Regions from separate parts of the Homo sapiens genome. Here region 2 is linked to region 1. The links come from fine-mapping of genetic effects on gene expression. A gene starts in region 1. The other region holds a variant in brackets. All regions are shown on one strand. Distances are between the middles of the regions.

Region 1 (5,388 bases):
CAATTTTCAATTTGTGATCTAATAGCAGGTTTGGATGGAGCTTGTGTTCTGGAAGACACAGTTTTGATGCTTTTAATATCCTGCTGTTGTTAAATAGAATTTGAATGGGTGAAAAATGAAATGTGGACAAAAACATATTGGATTCTCAAAACACGAAATATAGATATTGGTACATAAAATTTGAAATTAAGGCAGATTCTGGAAAACTGACTCCTAACAGTAAATCAAAAGGGATTTCTTGTTGCTATTTGGAAAGCATTTTCATAAAATTAGAATGAAGAATACAGCAAATTTAACCACTAGGAAAACACTTTCTTCACTTGCCTTCCATGACATTCTACTCTCTTGATTTTCTCTTCTCCTTCTCCTTTGCTGGGTCCTCCTTTTCTTTCCATCTCTTCATGCAGGACTCCTCCAGGGTTCAGTCCTTGATCTTCTTTTTTCAGTTTTCTATCTACACTCATTCTAATGGTTTGAAATACTACCTATGTGCCAATTACTTCCAAAGTTTGATCTTTAGCCCACACCTCTCTGTCCTGCTGCAGAATCATACATCCCAACTGACTAGTTGACACCACCAATCAGATCACTAAAAAGTATCTCAAACTTAACATTTCCAAAACTGAAATCTTGATCTTACCTCTCAGATTTGTTCCATCTGAACTTTCCCGCATTTCACCTGATGGTAACTCCATCCTTTGAATCACTCAGGTCGAAAGTCTTGGAGTCATCCTTGACTCTTTCATGTCCTCCCTTCAGTTCCATCAGTAACTTTACCTTCCAGAGGAATCACTTCTCAACCACCTACACAAGACTTACCCTGGTTCAGGCCACTATCATTTCTTCCCTTCTTCCACACACCCTGCCCCTGCATAGGCTCTTCTCAAAAGAAGATTCTGAATGACGCTTTTACTTTATTTTTATTTATTTTTTTGAGAGGGTCTCACCCTCTCACCCAGGCTGGAATGCAGTGGCACCAACATGGCTCATTGCAACCTAGCCTTCCAGGCTCAATGGATCCTACTGCCTCAGCCTCCTGAGTAGCTGGGACCACAGATGTACACCATGCCCAAACAGATATATATATTTTTTTACTTTTTGTAGACATGGGGTCTCACAGTGTTGCCAAAGCTGGTCTTGAACTCCCAGGCTCAAGCAATCCTCCTGCCTTGGCCTCCCAAAGTGCTAAAATTACAGGCATGGGCCACTGCACCAGCCTGATACTTTTAAGATGTTAAGATCATACCATTCTTTTCCTCAAAATTCTATAAGAGATCTTCATCTCACATAAAATAAAAGCCAAAGTCCTTACAAAACTCTACACCACCTGTCCAATCTCAACACTTCTTGCCTTTCCTGGCTTGCTACTGACTAGGAGCATTGGAGCTGGCTGTTTGCTTTGCCAGGACAGCTTTTCTCCTTGATAACCAGCTTTTCTCAGATTAACAGCTCTTCCCTCAGATAACTAGTTTAGCCCATTACCTCCTTCAAACCTTGGCTCAATGTAACGTTTTCAATGAAGCCTACTCTGAGAATCCTATTTAAAATTGCAACGTACTTTGGGAGTCCAGGGCGGACAGATCACCTGAAATCAAGAGTACAAGACCAGCCTGGCCAACATGGTGAAACTCCATCTCTGCAAAAATACAAAAATTAGCCGGGCATGGTGGCACGTGTTTGTAGTCCCAGCTACTCAGGAGGAGGAGTTTGCAGTGATCGGAGATCGTGCCACTGCACTCCAGCCTGGGCATTAAAGCAAGGCTCCGTCTCAAAAAGATGAATGTCTCTTCATCTTCTTTTATCCTGTTCTATTTTTTTTCCATACCATGTCTTACTCTGTAGCTCACCATAATTTATTTGTATGCTCATTTTAGGTTTCCCTCAAGTAAAACGTAAACTAATCCAGGCACGGTTTTTGTTGTTGTTCCATTATTTTGAGGGCTGGGCACATAGATGCGCAAGGAGTGCCCAAACTCATCATCTCACTCTTTATACAGCTGGGCAAACTGCCTAAAGTTTCCTCAAGCCTCAGCTTTACTATTTTCTTGAATGGCTAAAACTCACAAAACACATCTAGCGTCAAAAACTTTGCGACCCCGGAAGTAAAAGGTTAAGGAAGGGGGTCACAGGAGAAGGCTATTTCCGTTTCCGTACGGAAGCAAAGGAGCCAAGACCATGGCGAAAGCCGGGGATAAGAGCAGCAGCAGCGGGAAGAAAAGTCTAAAACGGAAAGCCGCTGCCGAAGAACTTCAGGAGGCTGCAGGCGCTGGGGATGGGGCGACGGAAAACGGGGTCCAACCCCCGAAAGCGGCTGCCTTTCCGCCAGGCTTTAGCATTTCGGAGATTAAAAACAAACAGCGGCGACACTTAATGTTCACGCGGTGGAAACAGCAGCAGCGGAAGGTACGCGAGAGGCGGGGGCTGCCGGGCGCTTGCGCGTTGTTCCTGACGCTTAGGGCGGTCGCGGGGCGCACATCTGTGGTTGTCTGCTGGTCTCAAAAGTGTTCTCTGTGGCTCCGTGGGAAGGGTGGCGTCGCGGCCCACGTGTTCTGGTCCCCTCGCCCTAGTTTGGAGACTCTAGGTTCAGCCTTTTGCCTGAGCGTCAAGGTGGAAGATTATCTTGATAGGCTCTTTCCTGGGACGCTAGATTCACAAGGAAAGCTGTAAGGCCAGTTGGCTTAGTAGTGAAAACTACGCCCTCCTGGCCCAGAAGGCAAAAGTCTCAGCCCTTTGGTCCGTCTAGGTAGCGTTGGTTAATTTGCAGAATCTGAAATGGAGGCAATACGTAATAAATCCAAAATACTGCTTCTCTGATTCCTGCAGGAGCTCCTTACCGAAATTAGTACTGTAAAGTTTCTGGTAATTGTATTTGTTCTTTTCAGCTTTATCCTTATACGTTTCTGGTAGGTAAACAAACTGAAACGTAAAGAGGTTTAAACGACTTGTCAAGGTCGCAGTGCTCATTTCTGGTTAAATTGCAATTGGAAGAAAACGTTTGCTTATTCTTGCACATCGTAGAAGTTCACACAATATTATTATTATGTGTCTGCCTCCTCTTACTGGCCCTTCTGAGGCCCGGGACTGGTTCTTACTCATGTTCAGTGTCAAGGTGCTGTTTCAATACATACAAGGGGCGTTTAACTCATTCTGGTATGCACGTATTGGGGAGGGATGTCCTGGAAGACTTATTGGAGCTATGATTTCTAATCTGAAACCTGGTGGATTGAGGATCAGTAGGTGCTGGGGAAAAAAGAATATTTTTTATTTTGTCAAGCATTCTATCTAGAAATCTCCAGAAGAATATATAGATTGACAATACAAATACAGATAATCTTAAGCCACCTTGCAAGCTCTTACTAAATTTTAGAAGTATATTTTGATTATAAAATATGTGAATAACTGGTGATGGTTTTATGGAAAACAACCTGAAAACTCAGCTCCCATTCCTATTTTTAGTGCTTTTCAAGAGAAGCAAGCAGCATAACCATGGTCGTCTTTAGGATGCCACCAGTTAGGCAAAACAAAACACAGTGGAAACCATCACATACTTTAATTAATTTGAGGCTTTATGGAAAAAGGTTAAGCTACTCAAATTTTAAATGTTCAAACTTGCCAGTTTAGATTTTTTTAAAGGAGCAGGTCTTTGTTAAAGAAATCTTATTGATTGGCCAGCTCATTTGGCTTACAGTAATTTAGGTAGAAAACTCCACGTCCAGATGCTTATTTCAATAGATTACAAAGACCGCCCAGTTCGAGTATTCATAGCATTAGTAATTTGTAGTTTCAGTATGTGTTTGTGATATAACTGGTTGTTTCTCAGTATTGTTCTCTTTTTTTTTAACCCTTTAGGAAAAGTTGGCAGCTAAGAAAAAACTTAAAAAAGAAAGAGAGGCTCTTGGCGATAAGGTAAATAAAATTTTTAGCTGTTTGCTTTCTATCTTATATTAGGGAATCCCTCCTGATATTTAAGTTGAATTACTTTCTTTTAAAATTTATTATTACGTATTTCAGATGTATGAAGAAATACAAAAGTAATATAATAAACCTCTTTGTATCATTTACCCAGCTTAAGAAATAATGCATTAGCAAAGAATGTTGGAAGCCCCTCGTCTGCTTCATAATTGCTTTTCCCTCCGAAGATAACCACTCGTGAAATTTTTGATTATTTTTTCCATGCACTTCTTTTACCTTTACTGTGTATGTTTGTGTACCTATACGGTAACACAGTGGTGGTATTTTGCATATAACTTTGTGTTTCAGAGGTCAACACCTCTCCCTGACTTTGGGAATGGGGAAGCTCCCCCAGGTTAGGCCTGGAGCTTGGCTCTTGTCATGTGAAGCAAAGATTTTTGGTCAGGCAAGGCTGGGGAAAGGCAGGACAGATCCTCTTCTGGAGTAGGGTGATAAGGGTGTGTTAAGCTTTAGAGCTGGTACAGAGGATATGAACCTGTGAAAAGTGAGAATGGGGAGTGGGAGGACGGTGAGGATTATGGCAGAGAAAAGAGCAGATAATGCATCAAGAAAGAATTTGGCTGTATTTGTGGTACTCATAAGAAGTGAAATCTTTATTGAAAAAATTTTTTAAACTACTAAATGCTCATACATTATTGCATAGCTAAGTTATTTTTATTTTCAGTGTATTTATAGTTACTCCTAGGTTGTGATTTATTTTTGCAAAATTTTGAAAACATTCATGTCTCCGCCTCCCATTCAAGTAAGTTACCAAATAAGGGTGTTTGAGGAAGGGAAAAAAATGTAAAGACAGTATACAAACTAAACACTCTACTATTTCATACATTCTTTGAATAGTATTAGGTTAAACCATAGAAAATTGTCAATAGTAGACTGTTTTGACCTGCAGTATCCTAGTATGTCAAGCATGTTAGTCTCTTTTTAATTCTTTTGTAATCAGTCTATTACAGCAAATTAATGTTATGATCACCATTTGAAAACACCACCATTCTTGTTTTTTGAGATGAAAGATAACTTCTTAAAATTGCCTCCTTTAAAAAATGCTTAAAATGTAATATTTGTTTCATAGAGTAATAAATGCTAGTTTCAGTTTGTATTTTCTTCATAGCTCTGCTAGTGTACATATATTTTGAATTAGTTTTAATGTACTCTTACAATTCTGTGTTCTACTTCTTAGCAATTCATTTACACCATTTCTTGGTCTAAGCTGAGTATGCATGATTGCTGATCCTAACAGTATTCCATAATGTTGATGTACTGTAGTATGTTTAGTCATTACCTTGTTGAACATTTGCCCTGTTTGCTGTTTATTTGCATTATAAATAGGGATACTATGTATTTCTTCGTTCAAATTTCTCCCCCATTTACATTCCTGAACATAAATACCCCAAAGTAAAATTACTAGGTCAATGGATA
Region 2 (5,388 bases), 41 kb after region 1:
TAATTTAGGGATATAGTGTCATGATGTCCTGTTTACTTTGAATATTTTATTCAGAGGGAGAGAATTACTCTTTTTATTTATATGTATGTTTAAAATTTTTCATATTAAATAAAAATATATGTCAGATCTTAATGTTTCTCTTAAAACCATGCATTAGCTTCCCATTTTGTAGGTGAAAATGGCCCAGAAGGTGCTGTATGTTTCCCCTCTACCTCCTTATTTTTCTGAACTTATCTTCTACCCTCTCCCCTACTCTCTCTGCTTCAATCATACTGGCATGCTCTCACCTTAATACCTTTATTTTATCTCTTTCTGGAACTCTTTCCCTCTAGATCTTCACTTGGCTAATTCCTTCTTTTCCCTTAGGTCTTTACTCAGATCTCACCTTTTCCATGAGACCTACCCTGACTATTTAAAACTGAAAACTTCTCCATCCCATATCTTCCCATTCTTCTTTACCCTGCCCTACTTATTATTTTTTCCTAGCAATTACCACTTTATAATATAGTATGTTACCTATTAGTGTTTTATGTTTATTGTTTTTTAATTTTTAAAAAATTTTAAAAATTGTACTTCTTAGAAGTCAGTATTTATTGTTTGTTGGCTATATTTCTCACAGAGCCAGGACTAGTCTGAGGCAAATGAGGTACTTGCCACAGATGAAAAATTTAAGGGGCTACCAAAAAATTTTTTTAGTAAAATTAATGCAAAAAAAATCCATGATGAACAAGATATCCATATTTTAAATAGAGACAGGATCCAACAGTGCCATCTCTAATCATTTTGAAACTTGGGACAAAAGAAAAAGTATGTGCCATACCTTGTAATGTATTTTTAAAATAGCTAATGGTTTTAATGAAAATGTTATTGATGAGTAGCTTCCATTAAAGTCAGGAAGGTAAGATTATAATAAATTAGCGTTTGAGTGTAAATAGAATATTTAACCTTAAAATAATATTGTCAGATTTAATATGTACTTTAAAATTTTTCAGTATTTTTTCAACTACTTTGTTGTTCTGGAAAAAAGCCATTAAAATGTCTTTTTTAAGAAGCATATATATAAATATTTAGTTCAAGAAACAGTTTCCTCCTGTAAAATATTAATACATTTATATAAAGATAAGGTCATATTTACTTCAAATTTCTTAAGGTTTTGCAAATATTTAATAGTATAGCTAGGGGTTAATCTTTTAAGTGCTCTAGTGTTCAAAATGCAACGTATAGAAAACTTCACTGTCAGATCTATACAGACATTTTAAATTGTTAGTTAATAATCATCATCAAAAGCATAGAAGTAATTTTCTTGATTTATAAAAACAACTTGAAGAAAACCTTATGCTCAGGAACTATTTTTATCTCCTATGAAATTACTAATATTAACAGTAGGTCATATTCAAACTTTTAAAGGTTTCTCAGATATTTAATATTGCATTCGAGAATATTCATTTAAATGCTTTGACTTTTAATATGCAGGGAGTATCAAACTTAATTTGACTAAAAGATAAGACTATATTTGCAATCATTGTTTCTGTTGTGGTTATATAAATATTCTTCTAAATAGAAGGATTCTAATCAAGGTCATAACAAAACATCAGTGGAAAAGTGGATAGTTACATAGAAGCATAGACATGCCCAATGTAAGAACAATCATTCCTTTCTCATTGGTCAGGAATAGGTTCTTCCTGGAATTCTGGGGAATAAGTACATTCCCCAAACCACAGTATTAAACTTTTTGCAGGTGCTGAGGGCTAGCAATCATCAGAACTGTAATAGGGAGAAAATATACAAAGGATAAAGATTCCACAGGGGATCACCCCAATGGAACTGAGTAGGTGGGGAGTGAGGTGAGGTAAAGTTGATGTTAAGAAAACTAGTCTTGGTGCCCTAGGATTCTTACTGCAGGCCACAGAAAAAAACACCATATGCCAAAGATGTTGAGCTAATCTCATAGCCACATCTATAACATTGTTGCCAAGGGAAAATGTACTCCAAGTGCCAAGTGGCCAACTTAAGAACAAATTTTTAGTTCATTTTGGTTTTTGTTTGTTCAGAGGGATGTATGTATTCCATGTTTTTTTTCTATTGTGTTTATTAAACTTAATTCTATAGGACATCAATTGATTTTTTTTTTCACTTTAAAAATATTTTAACCGATGTTCTTCTCAATTTATTCAGTTGGTGGAACTTCATGTTTTTTATGTCCCTGAAGGATCATGGAACTATAAGCTAAATACCATTTCAACAGAAGTTGTTAACAAATTCATTTCAGCTGGATTTCTAAGGCAAGTGTTGTGTAGTCATGTAACAATATGCCTGAAAGAAGAATCTGTTTTCTTCAGAGAAAAATGCTTTTTGGAAATTTAAAAACTATAAGTGAAAAATATTTTGTCCACGTGATAGATCCATTTCCTGACTTAATGAATACTATCAATATATAGTGCTATGTAACAATTGAATCAGTTCTGTAGGAATAGCTCACTTGGCCATAATACTACCACCCAGAAAACAGTATATAACCTGTGTATTATTATGGTTATACACAAAGTGAATTAAGAGAGAAGTTATCTAAAATTAAAAATCTGCTAAACTACTCAGGAGGCTAAGGTGGGAGGATTTCTTTGAGGCCCAGAAGTCAAGGCTGCAGTGAGCCATGATTGCAGCACTGCACTCTAGTCTGGGCAACAGAGTGAGACTCTGCCAAAAACAAAAAAGAGAGAGAGAAAGAGGGAAAAAGAAAGAGGGAGAGAGAAGAAGGAAGGAAGGAAGGAAAGAAGAACGGAAGGAAGGGAGGGAGGGAGGGAAAACTGCTGATCTGAGAATAGCAGTTAAAGCAATATATCTACAACGCCTCTTTCTCTGACCTGTTTAAAAATATAAACAAAGAACATGTGTTTATATGTATGTAGATGTGTATTTTCAAATTCACAAAAAGACACATAATACCATGTGATCTGACTGCCTGTTGTTACTCCTTACGCATACCTCTCTTTCTAATCTTCATCATCTCTTTCTTCAACCACATCAGCCTCCTTTCTGTTCTGGAACACA[T/C]AGCCCTACCTCAGGACCCTTGTACTTTCTGTTCCTTTTGTCTAGAATGAGTTTTCTGCCCTAACCATATGCTCTCCCATCTCCTTCAGGTCTTTACTCACATATTACCTTTTTCTGTGGATATTCTCTAATCACTGTATTTTAAATCATTCATACAGTCCCTTTCTCCCTTCCCTGCCTTATTTTTCTCTGTGGTACTTAGTAGTGTCTTATGAATTACATTTTTTTACTTATTTACTTCATTAATTTTTCTATCCCACCACTAGATTATATGTAAAGTCCATGAGGGCAGAGATTTTTATTTTGTTGACTGCCATATTCACATCCCTTGGAACAATGTCTGACACATAGTAGATGCTCAATAAATATGTGTTGATTGAATGAATTACCTAATATTTCTCATAAGGTCCCAGAAAAACAAGAACTCAGATGATAGCGTAAGTGATGGCTTTAAATTTTAGATATTCAGGAGCAAAGTATCCCTAATAAGCAAAGATGTGGACTCTGACAATGTTAGATTATTTAAAAAATTTTTAAGCACTAGCTACTCCTGCCAAACTTCCAAAATAAATATCTGTGGCTAAATCATTCATTGGTATATGTATAAAAGTACATCTATTCCACAGCAAATTTTAACAATAAAATTTGGAAGTAAATTAGCAAAGAGACAGTTGTTTTCCTTTTCAGTACAAAACATTTATAAACAGTGTTTATTTGCATAATTTTAAAGGCAGACTTTTAATTATTTATTTTAAGAGCTATTTATGGAAGACCTACAAAATGCCGGCAATGTGGAAACATAATATGTTAAGCTATATCTGACACATTAAATCAACCTTTGTGTTTGAGATAGCTGACTAAAGTTATTGAATCATTAGTATATCCAAAATCTATTTCATTTTATATTATAAGGCAATTTTATAATATTTCAGAGTATCTCCTCAACTTACTTTACGAGCCCTGAGGGAGCGTCTTGGTGAGTTCCTGGGTGAAGATGCTATTGCAGAAAAATTTTTATTTCTGAAATGCATTGGAAATAATTTAGCTGTGGTAAGTTTTCTTTTTTTTTCTTTCTGATTGAGAAAGACCATACCTTCTCAAATTACATTTCTTAAATGCTTATCAACTCAGCTCCTTAAGATATTATTAGATATGTAATCTCAATCAAAATGAAATGGAAATATCATTAAACATACAGATCAACAAAGATAAGTTGCATAGGCATGTTATTGGGCATGAAAATGATGGGTTTTGTGTGTGAATTTCCTTGCAAAGCAAAGAAATACCAATTTAAAATGTGATCATATAAGTTCTTGAATTTAAATGAAAGTTTTTAAGTGTTTTAAACAGGTACTTGAGTTCTGGGAAAAAATGGGGTTCTCATCACTTGTGCCACAACTAGACTCATTTGATGTGAAAATGATATGGCTCCAACATATTTTTTTGGTGTCAACTTTTTTTTTTTTTTTCCGAGACGGAGTCTTGCTCTGTCACCCTGGCTAGAGTGCTGTAGTGTGATCTTGGCTCACTGCAACCTCCACCCCTCAGGTTCAAGCAATTCTCCTGCCTCCCGAGTAGCTGGGATTACAGGCATGCGACACCACGCCCGGCTAAGTTTTGTATTTTTAGTAGAGACAGAGTTTCACCATGTTGGCCAGACTGGTCTCAAATTCCTGACTTCAGGTGATCTCCCTGCCTCAGCCTCCCAAAGTCCTGGGATTACAAGCATGAGCCACCTTGCCTGACTGGTGTCAACTATTATTTACTGAACACTCCTATTTGTAGTTTCTATGACTTAGTGGGCAGGATACTCTAAGTAGAGAGTATTCCTAGCTTAAGTTTCAAATCTAACAAGCCATCAGATCTCAAAGGTTCTGGTCTCTCATATCTACATAAATTTTATTTCCTTAATCAAGATTTTCTATATTTAAACTCTTTAAAATGCAGCATATTCTTATTTCACTCTCATTAACAGATTATATCATTATTATGTGTTTATGTGAATATTTGCTTAACATCTAACTCTACCATTAGATTATAGGTCCTTGTGGGGAGGGACTTCATTTTATTCATCATTGTATTTATAACCAGTGCCTAACAAGGTGCTTTGCACTAGAGGTGTTTAAATGTTCACTGAACAAATTAAAACATGAATGATAATGGAAAAAATAGGCATTTTCTTCCAAAGTACTACTATAATTTGCTGTGTGAGATTCTTGGGATCGGTAGTTAAATTTGAAGAGGTTTTGGTTATCAGAGTTCTATTTGGTACAACTTTTGGCATATTAATATTAATTTACTGATCATTAAGTCAGCTTTCCTCAAGCAGGCAAGAAAATG

Evidence for each region. PIP is the estimated chance that this variant, and not a neighbour inherited with it, causes the effect.
Region 2: its variant is the best candidate, but not a certain one, in a credible set for the expression of RPF1 in whole blood (INTERVAL, PIP 0.72).

Annotation. Positions count from the first base shown.
Region 1 is chr1:84,477,107-84,482,494 of GRCh38, forward strand. It overlaps RPF1 (ribosome production factor 1 homolog), which reads left to right and starts at 2,160. Exons shown (of 9, transcript NM_025065.7): 1 at 2,160-2,403; 2 at 3,850-3,906. The coding sequence starts at 2,176. RefSeq lists enhancers at 1,821-2,381, 2,577-2,736.
Region 2 is chr1:84,518,410-84,523,797 of GRCh38, forward strand. It overlaps SPATA1 (spermatogenesis associated 1), which reads left to right. Exons shown (of 14, transcript NM_001397487.1): 3 at 2,176-2,282; 4 at 3,981-4,098. Among named protein-coding and RNA genes, the nearest start is that of GNG5, 15 kb to the left of the region's middle. The variant T/C (reference allele first, on the strand shown) is at 3,049.